2 linked regions of the Homo sapiens genome follow. The protein of the gene in region 1 interacts with the protein of each later gene in a pairwise test. Each region holds a gene or a part of one and is shown on either strand. Other genes may lie near its edges. The genes, in order: MIER2 and DBF4B.

What was found.
Region 2: the proteins of MIER2 (region 1) and DBF4B interact in a two-hybrid assay, tested with the Homo sapiens proteins (one large-scale study listed by IntAct).

The regions. Positions count from the first base shown.
Region 1 is NC_000019.10:320,602-324,414, reverse strand, and holds part of MIER2 (mesoderm induction early response protein 2), read left to right. Parts: intron 1-3,813. UniProt on the Homo sapiens protein: Transcriptional repressor.
Region 2 is NC_000017.11:44,732,552-44,736,364, reverse strand, and holds part of DBF4B (protein DBF4 homolog B), read right to left. Parts: intron 2,276-3,813; coding exon 2,202-2,275; exon of another isoform or gene 2,184-2,201; intron 1-2,183. UniProt on the Homo sapiens protein: Regulatory subunit for CDC7 which activates its kinase activity thereby playing a central role in DNA replication and cell proliferation. Required for progression of S and M phases.

The sequences.
Region 1 (3,813 bases):
TGCATTGTGATGACGCCTGTGTCATTCGAGTCGTCTGTGTGGTTGTGTGTGTCCTGTGTATTGCATTGTGATGACGTCTGTGTCATTCGAGTTGTCTGCGTGGTTGTGTGTGTCTTGTGTATTGCATTGTGATGACACCTGTGTCATTCGAGTTGTCTGCGTGGTTGTGTGTGTCTTGTGTATTGCATTGTGATGACGTCTGTGTCATTCGAGTCGTCTGCGTGGTTGTGTGTGTCCTGTGTATTGCATTGTGATGACGCCTGTGTCATTCGAGTCGTCTGTGTGGTTGTGTCTTTATTGCATTGTGATGACGCCTATGTCCTTTGAGTCGTCTGCGTGGTTGTGTGTGTCTTGTGTATTGCATTGTGATGACGCCTGTGTCCTTCGAGTCGTCTGCGTGGTTGTGTGTGTCCTGTGTGTTGCATGGTGATGACGTCTGTGTCATTCGAGTCGTCTGTGTGGTTGTGTGTGTCTTTATTGCATTGTGATGACGCCTATGTCCTTCGAGTCGTCTGTGTGGTTGTGTGTGTCTTGTGTATTGCATTGTGATGACGCCTGTGTCATTCGAGTTGTCTGTGTGGTTTTGTGTGTCTTGTGTATTGCATTGTGATGACGTCTGTGTCATTCGAGTTGTCTGTGGTTGTGTGTGTCCTGTGTATTGCATTGTGATGACGTCTGTGTCGTTTGAGTTGTCTGTGTGGTTGCGTGTGTCTTGTGTATTGCATTGTGGTCCTTGGTTTGGATGCTGTGGTTTTTGAGTCTTGTGTGTTCCATTGTGGTCCTTGGTTTGGATGCCATGGTTGTGTGTGTCTTGTGTATTGCATGGTGATGATGTCTGTCATTTGAGTCATCTGCATGGTTGTGTGTGTATTGCATTGTGATGACGTCTGTGTCATTTGAGTCGTCTGTGTGGTTGTATCCTGTGTATTGCATTGTGATGATGCCTGTGTCATTCGAGTCGTCTGCATGGTTGTGTGTGTGTGTCCTGTGTATTGCATTGTGATGATGTCTGTTCTTTGAGTCATCTGTGTGGTTGTGTGTGTCTTTACTGCATTGTGATGATGTCTGTGTCATTCGAGTCGTCTGCGTGGTTGTATGTGTCTTGTGTATTGCGTTGTGGTCCTTGGTTTGGATGCCGTGGTTGTGTGTGTCTTGTGTATTGCATTATGATGACGACTGTATCATTCGAGTTGTCTGCGTGGTTGTGTGTGTCTTGTATATTGCATTGTGATGACGTCTGTGTCATTTGAGTCATCTGTGTGGTTGTGTCCTGTGTATTGCATTGTGATGACGCCTGTGTCATTCGAGTCGTCTGCGTGGTTGTGTGTGTCGTGTGTATTGCATTGTGATGACGTCTGTCATTTGAGTTGTCTGTGTGGTTGTGTGTGTCTTGTGTATTGCGTTGTGGTCCTTGGTTTGGATGCCATGGTTTTTGAGTCTCTTGTGTGTTCCATTGTGGTCCTTGGTTTGGATGCCGTGGTTGTGTGTGTCTTGTGTGTTGCATCGTGGTCCTTGGTTTGGATGCCACATTTACCCACCCTTTCTGCCATGGGCTGCGGTCATGGTTGGTTCAGCTGTGGGCTGTGAATGCCCTCGTGTGCGTCGTTAGTGGACATAGGCACTCGGCACTTGATGGACAGCGGGGAGTCGTGTGGGAGGTGTGTGCTTAGGGTGACGCATACTGCTTGAGTTTCTCACTAATGATTTGTGGGAGTTGCTCCACATTCTCGGTGTTTGCCACTGAGGGTGAATTTGCCTGAATTTTAGCCCGTCTGGTGGATATGGACTCCTGTCCCATTGTGGTTTTAATTGGCATTTCCCTGGTGAGCACCTTTCGCAGGTGTACTGGCCATTTGGATATTCTCTCTTTGCGTGCTCCAAGCTTTCTCCCATTTTGTTGTCTTTCCCTTTCTGATTTGTAGTCATTCACATTTTGTGGAAACAAGTCTTTCTGGGCTTTGTGCACTGCTGCTGTTTTCTCCAGTTTGTGGTTTGCCCATTGACTCTCTTAGTGATGTCTTTAATTTTAATAAAGTCCAACTTATCAATCATTATTTGAATAATAATGTGTGTGTGTGTTCTACTTAAGGAGTGTTTGCTTACCTCAGGCTCTTGGAGATATTCTTCCACGTTTCTTTCTAGAAGATTTATTGTTTTTCCTTTCACATTTAAGGCTGTGATCCAACTTAGTTTACATTTTGGTGTATGGTGGCTGGGCGTGGTGGCTCACACCTGTAATCCCAGCACTTTGGGAGGCCGAGGTGGGAGGATAACTTGAGGTCGGGAGATTGAGACCATCCTGGCTAACACGGTGAAACCCCGTCTCTACTAAAAATACAAAAATGAGCCAGGTGTGGTGGCGGGCACCTGTAGTCCCAGCTACTTGGGAGGCTGAGGCAGGAGAATGGCGTGAACCCGGGAGGCGGAGCTTGCAGTGAGCCGAGATCGCGCCACTGCACTCCAGCCTGGGTGACAGAGCGAGACTCTGTCTCAAAAATAAAAAATAAAAATAAAAATAAAAATAAAAACAACAAAAGTCCATTGTCTCCCCCACTGAGCTGCAGTGACGCCTTTGTGGTAAATCAGGTGCCTGTAAGGTGTGTCTTGTCTCACCCGGAGTCATCGCCACTGTCTCAGTTATTACAGGTTACAAGGAAGTCTGAGGTGGTGCAAGTCTTCTAACTTTGTAAGTTTTCATTGCATATCTATGTAAGTTTTAAGATTAAAACTTATTTTTTTCAGCAACTGACAAGTTTTAATCTTTTTTTTTTGAGATGGAGTCTTGCTCTGTTGCCCAGGCTGGAGTGCAGTGGCATAATCTCAGCTCACCACAACCTCCGCCTCCTGGATTCAAGCAGTTCTCCCACTCAGCCTCCCAAGTAACTGGGAGTACAGGCACCCGCCACCACGCCTGGCTCATTTTTGTATTTTTAGCGGAGATGGGGTTTCACCATGTTGGCCAAGCTGATCTCGAACTCCCAACCTCAGGTGATCCGCCTGCCTTGGCCTCCCAAAGTGCCGGGATTACAGGTGTGAGCCCCTGCGCCCGGCCCATAAATTGATTTTCAAACGTTAAGTTAACGGTGCACGGTGGAATAAACGTGCTTCCTGGCCATGAAGTGTTCTCTCTTGTGTGTATGTATCTCATGCACTCAGTCCTCATTATTTGTGGGTTCTGTGCTGGTGAATTGCCTACTTGGTAAAATTTATTTGAAACCGCAAATCAAAACTCGCAACACCTTTACGGTCAGGCGCCAGCAGATGTGTGTAGAGTGTCAGTGAAGGCGAGTTACCTGACGTACAGTTCCAGCTGAGGTGGGACAAGCTGCTGCTCTGTCTTGGCTCTCAGATCTTTTACTGTGAGCACGTGCCTTTCCTGCCGTGTACTGAATGCCGTTTTTCACATCCTTGTGCCTTGTGTCGGCTACTTGACGGATTAAAGTGGCCCCTAAATGTAGTGCCGACGTTCTGTCTGGTGTTCTTAGGTGGAAGAAGGCTATGATGTCCCTTTCAGAGAAAATTCGAGAAGCTCCACTCAGGCGCAAGCTCTGGGGCTGCTGGCCGTGAGTTCAGTGTTAGTGAATCCACAAGGCAGATCCAGTGAGACAGTGGCTCCCAACCTTTTTTGGCACCAGGGACTGGTTTCGTGGAAGACAATTTTTCCACGGATGTTGGAGTAGGGGGCGTGGTTTCAGGAGGAAACCGTTCCACCTCAGATCATCAGGCATTAGATTCTCATAAGGAGTGTGCTGCCTGCCTCCCTGGTGTGTGCAGTTCACAGTGGGATTTGCGCTCCTATGAGAATCTAATGCC
Region 2 (3,813 bases), on another chromosome or scaffold:
ATCTTGTGTACTCTGATCCTGTGGGTCAAAATCAATGTTTAAGCCAAGGTCAAACAAAGCTGATATTAAAAAGTAAATGGAGGCCGGGCGTGGTGGCTCACGTCTGTAATTTCAACATTTTGGTAGGCCGAGGCAGGTGGATTGCTTGAGCTCACAAGTTTGAGACCAGCCTGGGCAGCATAGTAAGACCCTATCTTTAAAAAAAAAAAAAAAAAATTAGCCAGGCATGGTGGCGCATGCCCGTAGTCCTAGCTACTTGGGAGGCTGAGGTGGGAGGATGGTTTGAGCCCAGGAGGTGGAGGTTGCAGTGAACAGAGATGGCGCCACTGCACTCCAGCCTGGGCGACAGAGCCAGACCTTGTCTCACAAAAAAAGTAAAGTAAAATAAACAAATAAAATAAAAAGAAAAAAGAGTAAATGGATCTTCTGGTATATACCTGAAAAATAAGTAAATAAATGTAAGATAAATGGAATAAAATAAAAAAATCAGCTTTAGCTGGAGGGCCAGGATGATGGTGGATCCATGACCACCTGTGCCTCTGGGCCTTAAGAAGTTCCAGATTCTCCTCTAGGCCACACCTTGGGGGCAAACACAATCCAAAGAAGCCTCTCACATTCCCTTGCGTATCAGCACATTACACCCAAAACTCACTTCACTGCTAGATATCTACAAAACTAATTTTTTTTTCTTTTTTTTGAGACAGAGTCTCACTCTGTTGCCCAGGCTGGAGTGCAGTGGTGTGATCTCAGCTCACTGCAACTTGTCTCCAGGGTTCAAGCGATTCTCCTGCCTCACCCTCCCAAGTAGCTGGGATTACAGGCATGCGCCACCACACATGGCTAATTTTGTATTTTAGTAGAGACAGGGTTTCACCATGTTGGCCAACTGGTCTCAAACTCCCGACCTCAAGCGATTCACCTGCCTCGGTCTCCCAAATTACTGGGATTACAGGCGTGAGCCACTGTGCCCGGCCTACAAAACTGATTAAGTTAAAGTAAAAATGCTGTGTATCTGCATAGAAGGGGGGAATTTTTGACATATTTGCTTCTATGTGCATAGAGTCCTAGAAACTGTTCACACTTTCAGGGAGGAAGGTCAGTGGTTGAGGAGAAGCTGGAGCAGGGCGAGAATTTTTGTTGTATACCCTTTTGAATTTTGAATAACACAAATTTAACAGCAGCAATGTCCCCAACACTCCTAGAGGAGAGGGTGTGGAGAGGGCGTCAGTGTCTGAATGCTCCATCCACTATTTTTTTATGTTTTTTTGAGACAGAATTTTGCTGTCGCCTAGGCTGGAGTGCAGTGGTGCGATCATGACTCATTGCAACATGTCTCCTGGGTTCAAGATTCTCCTGCCTCAGCCTCCTGAGTAGCTGGGATTACAGGCATGTGCCACCACGCCCGGCTAATTTTTGTATTTTTAGCACAGTCGGGGTTTCACCACACTGGCCAGGCTGGTCTTGAACTCCTGACCTCAAGTGATCTGCTGGCCTTGGCCTCCCAAAGTGCTGGAATTACAGGTGTGAGCCACCATGCCCAGCTGCTCCATCCACTTTGGATGTGGCTTGCTAGTTCTGTTAGCTAATTAGCACTGTTAACTAATAGCTATTACTGTTCGTCCTGTGCCTGGATGCCAGGCTGTGGGTAGATCTGTAGATTTAATCCTTCCTCAGATTGAGGCTTGGGTGAAGATACTGTGGCTTTAAACCAGGTTGGGCTCTCTTGATGTAGTACACACAGTTCTAACGCCAGCAAAGAATGGAAAACAAACAAGGATTTAGAAGATGGCAGCTATTTCAATCACTCCTTCTCACCCCTGCAGTATGCAGACTCGTTCCCAGTCTAGAGGCTGTACAGGGAAAGTTCCAGAATAGCAGCCTGGTCAGTGCCATGGGCATTTATGAACTTTATCTGGTCCAGAACTACTGTAGGGAGCCCATGGCCCAGGCAGTCCAGGCCATAGGGATGTCTCAGCAGGGTGTGTGCCATGGGAGGACTGCAAGTGCCACAGAGAAGAGAGAAGAAAGGGTGTTGCAAAGCTATGGGCACTAGGACTGAGGTAAATAAGAGGCTGCATTCCTCTTCCATCTTTCAGAATGGCCAGGAAGAGATGGTTTGGGTGGGCCATGGATTTACCTAAGTTGTCACTGATTTCATTGAAAACCATCCATTTGTCCTTCAGTTCAGCAGGATGACCTACCTCTGGCTTCTTTGGCTGTTGTTTTTTCACACATAAAGACGCAAGAGACAGCTGTTGCACGTGCATCATCATTTCTGTGGAGAAGACAGAGGGTTTGTGCCAAAGGCTTCCAGTCTTCACTTACCTAGCACAGCCCCTTCCTGGGCTGCAGGACTAAACTCGCTGGGCCAGCCCACTGAATCACTCCAGCCTTGCCTGCCACCTTCTGGCTACACATCCCCTCTGCATCTCCTGACAGCGGAGGTTAAGGACTGGGTCCTCTATCCCTGGAACAGCACCTGAGCGGGTGTCATGCTCTTTTGCAGCATTGAATACAACTCATCTTTGAACAGAAGGTGCCTCATGGCTTGCTAAGGACTTTAAGGCACCACTGAAGAGCTGTGGCTGTGAGGGAGGCCATGCTGTGTGAACTACTCAGCTGTACCCTCAGGTGAAAGACCAGCAAGGGCTAAACATGCTAGCACTCCTCTAACAGAGAAAGGCAGGGAAGGAAATCAAGTCAGAAATGGCTGATTTTTCAGTGAGATGAAGCCCTCCACATCCCAGACCAGGAACTTCCCCTGTACAGCCTCTAGACTCCCCTGGAAGATCTTGGTACCAAGGGGTGGGGCAGCGCCCCAGTCAGCACCTATGGGCTGTCCCATCTGGACCAATCCTCTAAAATGGATCACAGAAAACTCCAGACTCAAGAATGGAGCTGGGTATGAAACCACTCACTGCCACCTGGTTCAAGACAACTATTCTAGTGTAAACAGGCTGCAAACAGGTTGTTTACAGTGTGAAAAAAGAAGGAGCACAAAATTTACAGCTGAGTAAAACTGAGAGTGGTGGGCCACACTACACACTCTGGTGAGACCATGGACAATTTGCCTAATCCCTTTGAGGCTCAATTTCCTCATCTGTATAATGGGGACAGGACTGTAGTGAGGATTAAATGAGGTAATTCGTAGCACAGAGTCAATACCTGTTAGGTGGCCATGAATTTTTTTTTTTTTTTTTGAGACGGAGTCTCGCTCTGTCGCCCAGGCTGGAGTGCAGTGGCGCAATCTCGGCTCACTGCAAGCTCCGCCTCCCAGGTTCACGCCATTCTCCTGCCTCAGCCTCCCGAGTAGCTGGGACTACAGGCGCCCGCCACCACGCCCGGCTGATTTTTTGTATTTTTAGTAGAAAAGGGGTTTCACCGTGTTAGCCAGGATGGTCTCGATATCCTGACCTCGTGATCTGCCTGCCTCGGCCTCCCAAAGTGCTGGGATTACAAGCGTGAGCCACCGCACCTGGCCGAATTTTTTTTTTTTTTTGAGACGGAGTCTCGCTCTGTCACCCAGGCTGGAGTGCAGTAGCATGATCTTGGCTGACTGCAACCTCTGCCTCCTGGGTTCAAGTGATTCTCCTGCCTCAGCCTCCTGAGTAGCTGGGATTACAGGCACGCACCACCAGGCTCGGCTAATGCTTCTATTTTTAGTAGAGACGGGGTTTCACCACGTTGGTCAGGCTGGTCTCGAACTCTTGACCTTGTGATCCACCCGCCTTGGCCTCCCAAAGTGCTGGGATTACAGGTGTGAGCCACCTCGCCTGGCCAGTGGTCATGAATATTAAGATCATTTCTGCATTT